Linked DNA regions of Homo sapiens: regions 1, 2 and 3 are each linked to region 4. The links come from fine-mapping of genetic effects on gene expression. A gene starts in region 4. Each other region holds a variant in brackets. All regions are shown on one strand. Distances are between the middles of the regions. Region 1 overlaps POLE (DNA polymerase epsilon, catalytic subunit). Region 2 overlaps CHFR (checkpoint with forkhead and ring finger domains). Region 3 overlaps FBRSL1 (fibrosin like 1). Region 4 holds the start of POLE (DNA polymerase epsilon, catalytic subunit).

Evidence for each region. PIP is the estimated chance that this variant, and not a neighbour inherited with it, causes the effect.
Region 1: its variant is fine-mapped to the expression of POLE in whole blood (TOPMed, PIP 0.96).
Region 2: its variant is fine-mapped to the expression of POLE in whole blood (INTERVAL, PIP above 0.99).
Region 3: its variant is fine-mapped to the expression of POLE in whole blood (INTERVAL, PIP 0.97).

The regions. Positions count from the first base shown.
Region 1 is chr12:132,656,014-132,658,752 of GRCh38, forward strand. It overlaps POLE (DNA polymerase epsilon, catalytic subunit), which reads right to left. Exons shown (of 49, transcript NM_006231.4): 27 at 1,855-1,957; 28 at 1,336-1,416; 29 at 1,123-1,245. Among named protein-coding and RNA genes, the nearest start is that of POLE, 30 kb to the right of the region's middle. The variant A/G (reference allele first, on the strand shown) is at 1,421.
Region 2 is chr12:132,876,670-132,879,408 of GRCh38, forward strand. It overlaps CHFR (checkpoint with forkhead and ring finger domains), which reads right to left. Exons shown (of 18, transcript NM_001161346.2): 3 at 886-985. Among named protein-coding and RNA genes, the nearest start is that of CHFR, 9.6 kb to the right of the region's middle. The variant AT/A (reference allele first, on the strand shown) is at 1,135.
Region 3 is chr12:132,569,130-132,571,629 of GRCh38, forward strand. FBRSL1 (fibrosin like 1) reads left to right here. Exons shown (of 19, transcript NM_001367871.1): 7 at 797-1,112; 8 at 1,206-1,411; 9 at 1,939-2,102. Among named protein-coding and RNA genes, the nearest start is that of MIR6763, 12 kb to the right of the region's middle. The variant C/T (reference allele first, on the strand shown) is at 1,172.
Region 4 is chr12:132,685,685-132,688,423 of GRCh38, forward strand. It overlaps POLE (DNA polymerase epsilon, catalytic subunit), which reads right to left and starts at 1,658. Exons shown (of 49, transcript NM_006231.4): 1 at 1,570-1,658. The coding sequence starts at 1,631. It overlaps PXMP2 (peroxisomal membrane protein 2), which reads left to right and starts at 1,903. Exons shown (of 5, transcript NM_018663.3): 1 at 1,903-2,108. The coding sequence starts at 1,987. RefSeq lists a silencer at 1,109-2,418.

The DNA of each region.
Region 1 (2,739 bases), 30 kb before region 4:
AAAAATTAAAAAAATAAAAATTAGCTAGGCATGGTGGTGCGTGCCTATAATCCCAGCTACACTAGAGGCTGAGGCAGAAAAAAATTAAAAAAATAAAAATTAGCTAGGCATGGTGGTGTGTGCCTATAATCCCAGCTACACTAGAGGCTGAGGCAGGAGAACTGCTTAAACCCAGGAGGCAGAAGCTGCAGTGAGCCAAACCCAGGAGGCAGAAGCTGCATTGTGCCACTGCACTCCTGCCTGGGCAATAGAGCAAGACTCCGTCTTGGGGGGCAGGGGAAAGAATACATATATAACTCTTACAAATAAGACAGTTAAATTTTAAAATCCAATCCATCTCAGAACCTTTTTCTTTTTTTTTTTTTGAGACGGAGTCTCGCTCTGTCGCCCAGGGGAGTGCAGTGGCGTGATCTCGGCTCACTGCAAGCTCCGCCTCCCGGGTTCACGCTGTTCTCCTGCCTCAGCCTCCCGAGTAGCTAGGACTACAGGCGCCCACCACTACGCCTGGCTAATTTTTTGTATTTTTAGTAGAGATGGGGTTTCACTGTGTTAGCCAGGATTGTCTCCATCTCCTGACCTTGTGGTCTGCCCACCTAGGCCTCCCAAAGTGCTGGGATTACAGGTGTGAGCCACCGCACCTGGTCAAAGAACCTTGTTCTTGTCATGTGAGTTTGTATACTGCTCTGATTTATAGCTTACTTTTAATTTTCAGCATTTAAGAATTTTCCTTTTGCTCTTCTGACTTTCACTGTACCTTTTATTACACTGTGTCCTGTGTTTCTAAGTGTTTCCATAGGGAAGATATTCATTTCACATTCAGAAAACTGGGGCTTCAAGAGACAGTGATTTGCCCAAGGCACTGAGTCTAAGTAGTGCACCCTAATATTTTCACATAAGGAGACAGTTCCTTGCCCTCACCTCAGCCTCACAATGGTGTCCTATTAACAAAAGAGTGACACTCAGAGTTAGAGAGTAAAGTGCCAATGGGCACATTTTCAGAAAAAGTCCATTTTCGATGCTTGAACAGAAGCTTCACTACAGCACACACAGCAGCGCAAGAAGCCTGGAGTCCTGTGTGTCACAAGGATCCCGCCCAGCCCAGCCTTGGGGCCCCACCGTCACCTGTCTCCTGCCCTCCAGGGTGAAGAGCTCACTGATCTTCTTCTGCTTGTAGACATCATTCTTCTCCAGCAGTTTTTTGTGCAGCCAGTCGGGGTGTTTGACACGTGGCACTGGGTTCTTTACCTGTGTGAGGCCAACACCCATCAGAGAGAGACCCTTGTCTAACTGCACAGTTTTTAGCCCCACAGCCCGTGCCACTGACCCCGCCCTTACCTGCTGCAGGGCCGCAGGGATGGTGATGATCTTCTGGATGGCGCTTCCCAGCCGCTCAATGTAGTAGTCCCAATCCAGAATCTGC[A/G]TGTGCAGGAAACGGGCACAGAGAACAGCAGGTGGCAGCAGCCAAGAGTGGGGCTCACTTCATGCTGAGCACAGGGCTAACCACTGTGTCTTATTTAATCCTCTCAGAAACTCTATGATGAAAGGTGCCCATTGCACAACAGAGGACACCAAGGCAGGGAGCTTCACTGACTCCTCTAGATCACAGAGCTAGTAGGTGGCTGAGCCAACACCCCTGGCCTTAGTCCATCCAATAGAACAGCTAAAGGGCCCCAGGCACTTCATGTTTTCAGTTTTGCCCTAAAAGGTTATTAGGTGCTCACCTATTACTTATCAGAAAGGAGGAAGTCAAGAGTGAAGACGCCAGACAAAAAACATAATCCAACTCAGACATATTCTGCTCTGTCTAGCTTTCCTTGTAAACTTTTAAGAGTAGAGAACGCAACTGGCACTCACTGCTCGAATATCAAAGTCTTGAAGGGAAGAGCTCTTGAGCCATTTCCGGAGAAAGTGCTTCCTCACCGTGGGCTCTGCTTGGAAAATGGCAAGTGGGATGGCCCTGGGTAAGGAAGACAGGCACACAGCTCAGTAACAGTGAAAATCACCCAAAATCTGATCCTAACTCTTATCAAATGAACATGGAAATAAGGACGTGTAACAGCTGTTCACAAACATCAATGTATACATCTGCGTGCATATGTATGCACAAACATGCCTACAGGTTCCTCGGGGAGTAACACGTGCGTATGTGTAAACACGTGCGTGTGTGCACGTAAACATGTCTACATGTTCCTCACAGCGTAACCATGGGCATGCATATACATAAACACATGCGTGTGCGTAGACATGTCTGCGTTTCTCATTGAGTAACCACGTGCATGCGTACAGGCAAACACGTGCATGTTCGTAACTATGTCTACATGTTTCTCACGGCATAACCATGTGCATGCACATACATAAACGCATGCGTGCGTAAACATGTCTACGTTTCTGAGTAACCACGCGCATGCGTATAGGCAAAGACATGCGTGTGTGCGTAAACATGTCTGCGTTTCTGAGTAACCACGTGCATGCATACAGGCAAACGTGCACGTTCATAACCATGTCTACATGTTCCTTGCTGAGTAACACACAGAAGACTCAGGCTGCTTTCTAGAAAAAACGAGCCTGTTTTCATGTCACTAGCAAAGCAACTGGCAACCGTCAGTGCTTCCCTTTCACTGGAGGAAACATCTGTGGTGAATACTGCAAACATAAGGAGACCTAAAGAAGACACGCACACTATGATCCACTCGGCTCCATCAAGCTTCAACACTTGGCCACTCTGACTTCCTTTGTGAG
Region 2 (2,739 bases), 190 kb after region 4:
GAATACATTCAAGAAGGGTCATAGACACCAAAGTGTCACTAAGTGTCCCATCCTGGAAACCAGGAAATACATCTTCTAATACCTTGGGAGCCTAATTAACTACAGTCATGCCCCAGATAATAAACTTTTGTTTCGTTTTGTTTTGAGATGGAGTTTCACTCGTTTCCCAGGCTGGAGTGCAGTGGTGCCATCTCAGCTCACCACAATCTCCGACTCCCGGGTTCAAGTGATTCTCCTGTCTCAGCCTCCCGAGTAGCTGGGATTACAGGCGCATGCCACAACGCCCGGCTAATTTTTATATTTTTAAGAGAGACAGGGTTTCTCCATGTTGGCCAGGCTGGGCTTGAGCTCCTGACCTCAGGTGATCCAACTGCCTCAGCCTCCCAAAGTGCTGGGATTACAGGTGTGAGCCACCGCGCCCGGGCTGATAATAATGTTTTTTTCAACAGACGCATATACGATAGGAGTCCCACAAGATTAAAATATCATATTTTTACTGCACCTGTTCTGTGTTTAGATAAATACTCTTACCATTGTGTTACAACTGCCTATAGCATTCAGTACAGTAGCACGCTGTATAGGTTGATAGCCTAGGAGCAATCGGCTATACCATATAGCCTAGGTATGTAGTAGGCTACACCATCTAGGTTTGTTTAAGTATACTCCATGATGTTTGCAAGATGATCAAATTGTCTGACACATTTCTCAGACTGGATCCCTGTTGCTAAGGGACACATGACTGTGCTGTTATAAAAATGAGCCGCTGTTATCACACTAAAGACAGCATTTCTTCTCCTCCTCAGCCGTGGCACACAGCACAGAGCACGAAGTCAGGCTTCTTAAGCTACAAGAAGAAACACCAAAAGAAGCTCAGAACATACTCACCTGGTATCTTCCAGTGTCACCTGACCTGATTTTTCATCCACTACAATTCTACAGTGATCTCCAGAGACCAGTTTATTGCTGGGGAAGGAAAGGTCGCAACCTAAAAAAGAGAGGGTGGGTCAACACGGGATATGATCGTGGTAACTGTGAACACTACTGCACTTTGTTTACCAAAGTATGTGGTTCCAACTCAGGATCCCCATTGTACATATGTAAAAAAAAACACTTGACCAAGAAAGACATAAAGAA[AT/A]TTTTTTTTTTTTCTTGAGACGGAGTCTCGCTCTGTCGCCCAGGCTGGAGTGCAGTGGCACCATCTCGGCTCACTGCAAGCTCCGCCTCCCAGGTTCACACCATTCTCCTGCCTCAGCCTCCAGAGTAGCTGGGACTGCAGGCGCCCGCCATCACGCCTGGCTAATTTTTTGTGTTTTTAGTAGAGACGGGGTTTCACCATGTTAGCCAGGATGGTCTCGATCTTTTGACCTCATGATCTGCCCACCTTGGCCTCCCAAAGTGCTGAGATTACAGGCGTGAGCCACCGCGCCCGGCCCATCCTGAACCTTTCTGAATCCCCACCCTCTCAAAGACACCCATCAATACCTCCAGTTACACACAGCCTCTTAAATGGCAATTTTACAGCCAGGCGCAGTGGCTCATACTTGTAAACCCAGCACTTTGAGAAGCTGAGGTGAATGGATCACGAGGTCAGGAGTTCGAGACCAGCCTGGCCAACACAGTGAAACCCCATATCTACTAAAAATACAAAAATTAGCTGGGCATGGTGGCGGTTGCCTATAATCCCAGCTACTTGGGAGGCTGAGGCAGGAGAATCGCATGAACCCAGGAGGCAGAGGTTGCAGTGAGCTGAGATCGCGCCACTGCACTCCAGCCTTGGCGACAGAGCTAGACTCCAACTGGAAATAAAAAAAAAAAAAAGCAATTTTACAATATGCTTGCATACACAGCTAACCTGATGAGTATTATTAGAACTTTAAAAAAACTCAGGGGGTTGGCTAGGTCCGGTGGCTCACACCGAGGCGGGCAGATCACAAGGTCAGGAGATCGAGACCATCCTGGCTAACACAGTGAAACCCCATCTCTACTAAAAATACAAAAAATTAGCCGGGCGTGGTGGCGGGCGCCTTGTAATCCCAGCTACTCAGGAGGATGAGGCAGGAGAATGGCGAGAACCCGGGAGGAGGAGCTTGCAGTGAGCCGATATGGCGCCACTGCACTCCAGCCTGGGTGACAGAGCAAGACTCTGTCTCAAAAAAAAAAAAAGAAAAAAAAAAACTCAGGGGCTTAAGTAATTCTTCAGTATCTTAATTTAGTCCTTAATTTCTTTTCTGTGTAAACTTAGGTTTCATAAATCAACATAAAATTGAAGCAATGACAGTCACAGAAAAAGTGACTGAGCCAACTGTGATAGGCATTTGTTTTTTTTTTTGTTTTTGTTTGTTTTTTTTTTTTTGAGATGGAGTCTCGCACTGTCGCCCAGGCTGGAGTGCAGTGGCACCATCTCGGCTCACCACAACCTCCACCTCCCAGGTTCAAGCCATTCTCCTGCCTCAGCCTCCTGAGCAGCTGGGACTACAGGCATGCGCCACCATACCCAGCTAATTTTTTGTATTTTTAGTAGAGACGGGGTTTCACCATGCTGGTCTTGAACTCCTGACCTCTTGATCCACCCGCCTCAGCCTCCCAAAGTGTTGGGATTACAGGCTTGAGCCACCGCACCTGGCCTGCGATAGGCATTTGTACACGTATAAGAAACTGCATCTTATATACAGGGATGCATCTATAGCTGAATACAGTAATTCTGACACTTTGGGATTTTTTTTTTCTTTTTTTTTTTTT
Region 3 (2,500 bases), 120 kb before region 4:
GGACGCTGCCCTCTCCTGACTCCTGGGGACTTGATCTGAGACCTGCCCGAAGGGGCCTGAAAAGGAGGGTTTGGGGTGTGCGGGGGTGGGGGGGGCAGGCCCCAGGGGCTCAGAGGGGCCCACAGGACCTGCGGGGGACGTGCCTAGGTGGGCAGAAGGGTGGCCAGGGAGCAGGGCTGAGGGTGGCGGGTGACGGGCAGTCACAGTAGGGGGAAGCCTCCCACCCAGTCCCTGCCCAAGTTTCCAGGAAGTGGTCAAGCCTTCCACCAGGGGGTTCCAGAAAGAAAAGGTGGTTACAGCTGTGGGCGCTGCTGTTGGGGTGGGGCAGACCCATGCCCTGGGCTGAGGGCACATCCAGGGGCCGTGAACATGAGGCCTAGGTACACAGGCCCTAGCTCCCGTGTTCAAATCCAGCTCCCCTCTTGGGCCAAGTCCTTGATGTATCTTGGTTTTGTCTGTTAAATGAGGTCATAGCAGCCCCTGTCCAGGGACTGACTCTTGCAGGGCCTGTCCTGTCCCTGCCAGTGATGCGTCTTCGGGCAGGTGGGCTACCCACCCCCACCCCTGGCCACGGCCCAGGCTCCCAAGCCAGCTCCCTCCGCCGGGCGGGGCCTGGAGCCTCGGGTGAGATCCAGCTAGCTGTGTGGCCTCCGTGCCTGCCTCCTCATCTGAAATGGGGGCATAGCCGGAGCCCAGACATAGCCTGGGCACCGGGCACGTACCAGGGCTCCCTGGGCCACAGGAGGGGCAGGGACGAGGCCCTGCTGGTCTGAACGCAGCCACCCTCTCTCTGCAGGCCCAGCGCTTGAGAAGTCGGAGGCCAAGGCCGGGCCGGTGCCCAAGGTGTCAGGCCTGGAGCGCAGCCGCGAGCTCAGCGCCGAGAGCTTCCTGCCCACTGCCAGCCCCGCGCCCCATGCCGCGCCCTGCCCGGGGCCCCCGCCCGGCTCCCGCGCCAATCCCTTGGTGAAGAAGGAACCCCCCGCCCCGCACCGCCACACCCCGCAGCCGCCACCCCCGCAGCCCCGCGGCCTGCTCCCGACACACGTGCCTGCATCCCTGGGCGCCTTCGCGGGCCACAGCCAGGCGGCAGCCAACGGCCTGCACGGCCTCAGGTGGGGTCCCCGCGGGGGACGGGGCCTGTGTGGTCTCAGGATGGGGGCTCTGCAGGGGT[C/T]GGGCTGGCAGGCACTGAGCCCCGTGTCCCGCAGCAGGAGCAGCAGCGCCCCCCTGGGCCTGGGGAAGCACGTGTCGCTGTCGCCACACGGGCCGGGCCCCCACCTGTCTACCTCACACCTGGCGCTCCGGTCCCAGGCGCAGCACCAGCTCCACGCGGCCATGTTTGCCGCACCCCCGACACTGCCCCCGCCCCCGGCGCTGCCGGCCAGCAGCCTGGTCCTCCCAGGACACCCGGCCGGTAGGTGTCTCGGCCACAATCTCGCCCAGGGCAGGGGTTGGGGGGTGCGGGGACACGGCCACCGGGGAGGGGCGCACAGCCTGGCCCTCCACCTGCTGTGGTCTCTGCGGACCCTGCGCGCCTCTCTGAGTGGTTCCCCCAGGTGTGCCTTTCCCCAGGAGTCTCTGCTGGGCCACAGGCCATCTGTGTGCGGGGACAGGCAGGACACGTGCCCATGCACGTACAGACGCGTGTTCACACTGAGACGGGCGCACGGGCCTCCCCTCCTGGGGCCAGGCCTCCCCCGCAGCCTGCTGGGTCCTGAGCCCTGGGAGGAGGGGGCCGCACATCAAGCAGGCGCCATCCCAGTGGAACCCCGACCGCGAAGGCTTCCTCCCTCGGCCCCCAGGCGCTTCCTGAGGCTCCGAGTCAGCCCGGCCCAGGCTGGGGACGGCCCCGTGTCCCGGGATGGGACCAGGATGCTGGCCTGCGGGTGGCTGGACCCTGGCTCCCGGGGAGGGGCTCACCGTGTTCTCTCTTGCCTCTAGATGCCAGCCTGGCGGTCTCATTCAGCCAGCCAATCATGTATTGCCAGCCTCATTCGGGAATTCTGATTGGTACTTGGTCACAGGCTCCTCTCTTACCTGCACCCCTGGGCCCGCACGTGGCGAGCGGCCACCCCGGCTTGGCCTGCCGACCCCGGGAGTGCCAGGTGACTATCCGCCTCGCCCCGCCGGGAGCCCGCGGCCAACGTGCCTCTCTGTCTCTCTCTCTTTTTCTCTTGTAGATCACGAGCTGCTCAGGCAAGAGCTGAACACGCGGTTTCTGGTGCAGAGCGCCGAGCGGCCTGGCGCCTCCCTGGGCCCGGGGGCTCTGCTGCGGGCGGAGTTCCATCAGCACCAGCACACACACCAGCACACGCACCAACACACACACCAGCACCAACACACATTCGCCCCCTTCCCCGCAGGGCTGCCCCCGACGCCGCCCGCCGCACCCCCGCCGGTGCGTAGGCCCGCGTGCTGGCAGGGGGCGGGGGCGGGCGTGGGGCGGGGACACGCAGCAGGCACACACAGACACACGCTCGCACACACACCAGCCCAGGAGGAG
Region 4 (2,739 bases):
GTCTCTAAGCTCCAAGTTCCAACACACCATGTAGACCCTAAGGGTACCTGCCTCTCTAGGGCTTGCCTGATATGGACAGACAGCGATGAGCACAACAGCAGTTAGGGATCCTTACCACTTGGTTTCTCCTCTGGGAAGAATTTTGTTCAGCTAAGTGTCTGTAAAAAGCTTCACGTTCTCACACGTTTTTTCTATTTTTTTTTTTTTGAGACAGAGTTTCATTCTTTGTTGCCCAGCCTGGAGTGCAATGGCGCGATCTCGGTTCACCGCAACCTCCGCCTGCCGCGTTCAAGTGATTCTCCTGCCTCAGCCTCCTGCGTAGCTGGGATTACAGGCATGCGCCACCACGCCCCGCTAATTTTGTATTTTTTTAGTGGAGACGGGATTTCTCCATGTTGGTCAGGCTGGTCTCGAACTCCTGACCTCAGGTGATCCTCCTGCCTCGGCCTCCCAAAGTGCTGGGATTACAGGTGTGAGCCACCGCGCCGGGCCTCATCCGTTTTCTGCTTATGGCAGGCCAGTCCTCCGGTCATGTTTACCGTTTGCTCTGGCCACCAAGCAGCCGCGTCTTATCCTTGCTCTATTTTTTTTGAGACTGGGTCTGGCTCCGTCGCCCAGGCTGGAGTGCGGTGGCGCGATCCCGGCTCACAGCAGCCTTGACCTGCCGGGCTCAGGTGAACCTCCGGCTCGGATTCGGGAGTATTAATAGCTGGGACCTCGGGCGCGCACCACCAGCCTGTCTAATTTTTCTTGTTTTTACAAGAGAAGGGCCGGGCGCGGAGTCTCACGTCTGTAATCCCAGCACTTTGGAAGGCCGAGGCGGGCGGATCACCTGAGGTCAGGAGTTCGAGACCAGCCTGGCCAACATGGTGAAACCCGGTCTCTACTAAAAATACAAAAACTAGCCGGGCCTGGTGGCGGGCGCCTGTAATTCCAGCTACTCGGGAGGCTGAGGCAGCGGGATCGCTTGAACCCGGGAAGCAGAGGTTGCAGTGAGCCGAGATCGCGCCACTGCACTCCAGCCTGGGCGACAGAGCGGGACTCCCTGCCCAAAAAAATAAAACAGAGGAGACGAGGTCTCTCTCTGTAGCCCAGGCTGATCTAGAACAGGATCCTGGGCTCCAGCGATCCGCCCGCCTCGGCCTCCCCCAGCGCTAGGCCCCCAGGCAGGGTCCCCGGCCCCGCCCCTCCCCGCACCCTCCCCAGCCGCGCGTCCACCCCGCAGGGCCTGGCCCGGGTCCCGCCGCTCTCATCGCCCCCGCCGCGCGGCAGGTCCCAAACGCAGCTGCGCGGAAGGCGAGGCCCGAAAAACCTCAGAAAGAGCCGAGCAGGGAAAGGCCGCGCGGCCCGCCTCGTTTCCCCGCAAAGAAGCCGCGCCCGTAGCGCCTCCGCCCGCCCCGAGCCCCTCCGTCGGCGGTCGGGGCGCGCCGCCCTACCCCAGTCAGGCGCGGCGAGTGCGGGCGGCTGCGGGAACCGGGCCTCCCTCCCGCCTCGGCGGCGCCAGCCGAGGACGGCCCCATGGCACCCTCCGGAGGGCCGGCCCGAGAGCCTCAGGAGGGCGCCCCTCACCTGCTGGCCTCGCCATCCGCGCCTGGGTCCGCGCGCCGCCGCCCGCCGCTCCTCAGAGACATGGAGCCGTTGGCTACCACCTCTGCTTCAGGGGAGAAATTTGGCGCGCTCCCACCCAGACTCGCGAGAGCCGGAAATGCCGCCGTCCATCAAGAGGCGCGCTCCGCCCCTCCCCCGCCCCCCGAGGCGCTCCAATTGGCGCCGGCGCCCGGCGGGGGAGGTGGCCGGCAGGGACCGGGGAAAAGTGTGTGGTAGGCGCGCGCGGCGCACCGTGGGGTTGGGACCGGGCGGCGCTGCGGGCCGCGGTGGGGCCGGAAATGTCAGGCGGTCCCCACTCCGCTCTCGGCGCCTCGGGCTCCGCGCCCGGCCAGCCTGAGGTGGGGTCGGTGCCCCCGGCGGCACGGCGCTGGGGAGGCGATGGCGCCGGCCGCGTCCAGGCTGCGGGCCGAAGCCGGGCTCGGGGCGCTGCCGCGGCGGGCGCTCGCCCAGTACCTGCTCTTCCTGCGGCTCTACCCGGTGCTCACCAAGGCGGCCACCAGGTGAGCGGGGGCGCGGGAATCGGACGCCGCCCCGGCCCCAGGTCGGCCGCAGCGGCGCGGGGCCTGGACGGGAGCGCCGGGCCGGGACCAGGCTGGGGGCGCGCCCGGGTCAGAACCCCCGGAGCGGGCGCCCTCCGACCCGGCGCTGAACTTCCCGCGGCGACACCCGCGTCCGCAGTCAGCGATTGTGAGGCGCCTTGCGGATCCCGCCCTCCCAGCGCGTGGAGGGCCCGCCCAGACCCGGGGGTCGGCGCTGAGGTTCCACCCAAGGACCCAACAGGGGCCCCGCGCGCCCGGGGAAGCCACGGCAAGGGGAGCGGGTCCGCAGGCGCGGGTGAAGACAGGGCGAGGGGAGCGGGTCTGCGGGGCGCGGGTGAAGACAGGGCGAGGGGAGCGGGTCTGCGGGGCGCGGGTGAAGACAGGGCGAGGGGAGCGGGTCTTGGGGGCGCGGGTGAAGACAGGGCGAGGGGAGCGGGTCTGCGGGGCGCGGGTGAAGACAGGGCCAGGGGAGCGGGTCTGCGGGGCACGGGTGAAGACAGGGCCAGGGGAGCGGGTCCTCATGGAGCGTGTGGAGACAGGGCCAAGGGAGCGAGTCTGCGGGGCGCGGGTGAAGACAGCGCCAGGGGAGCGG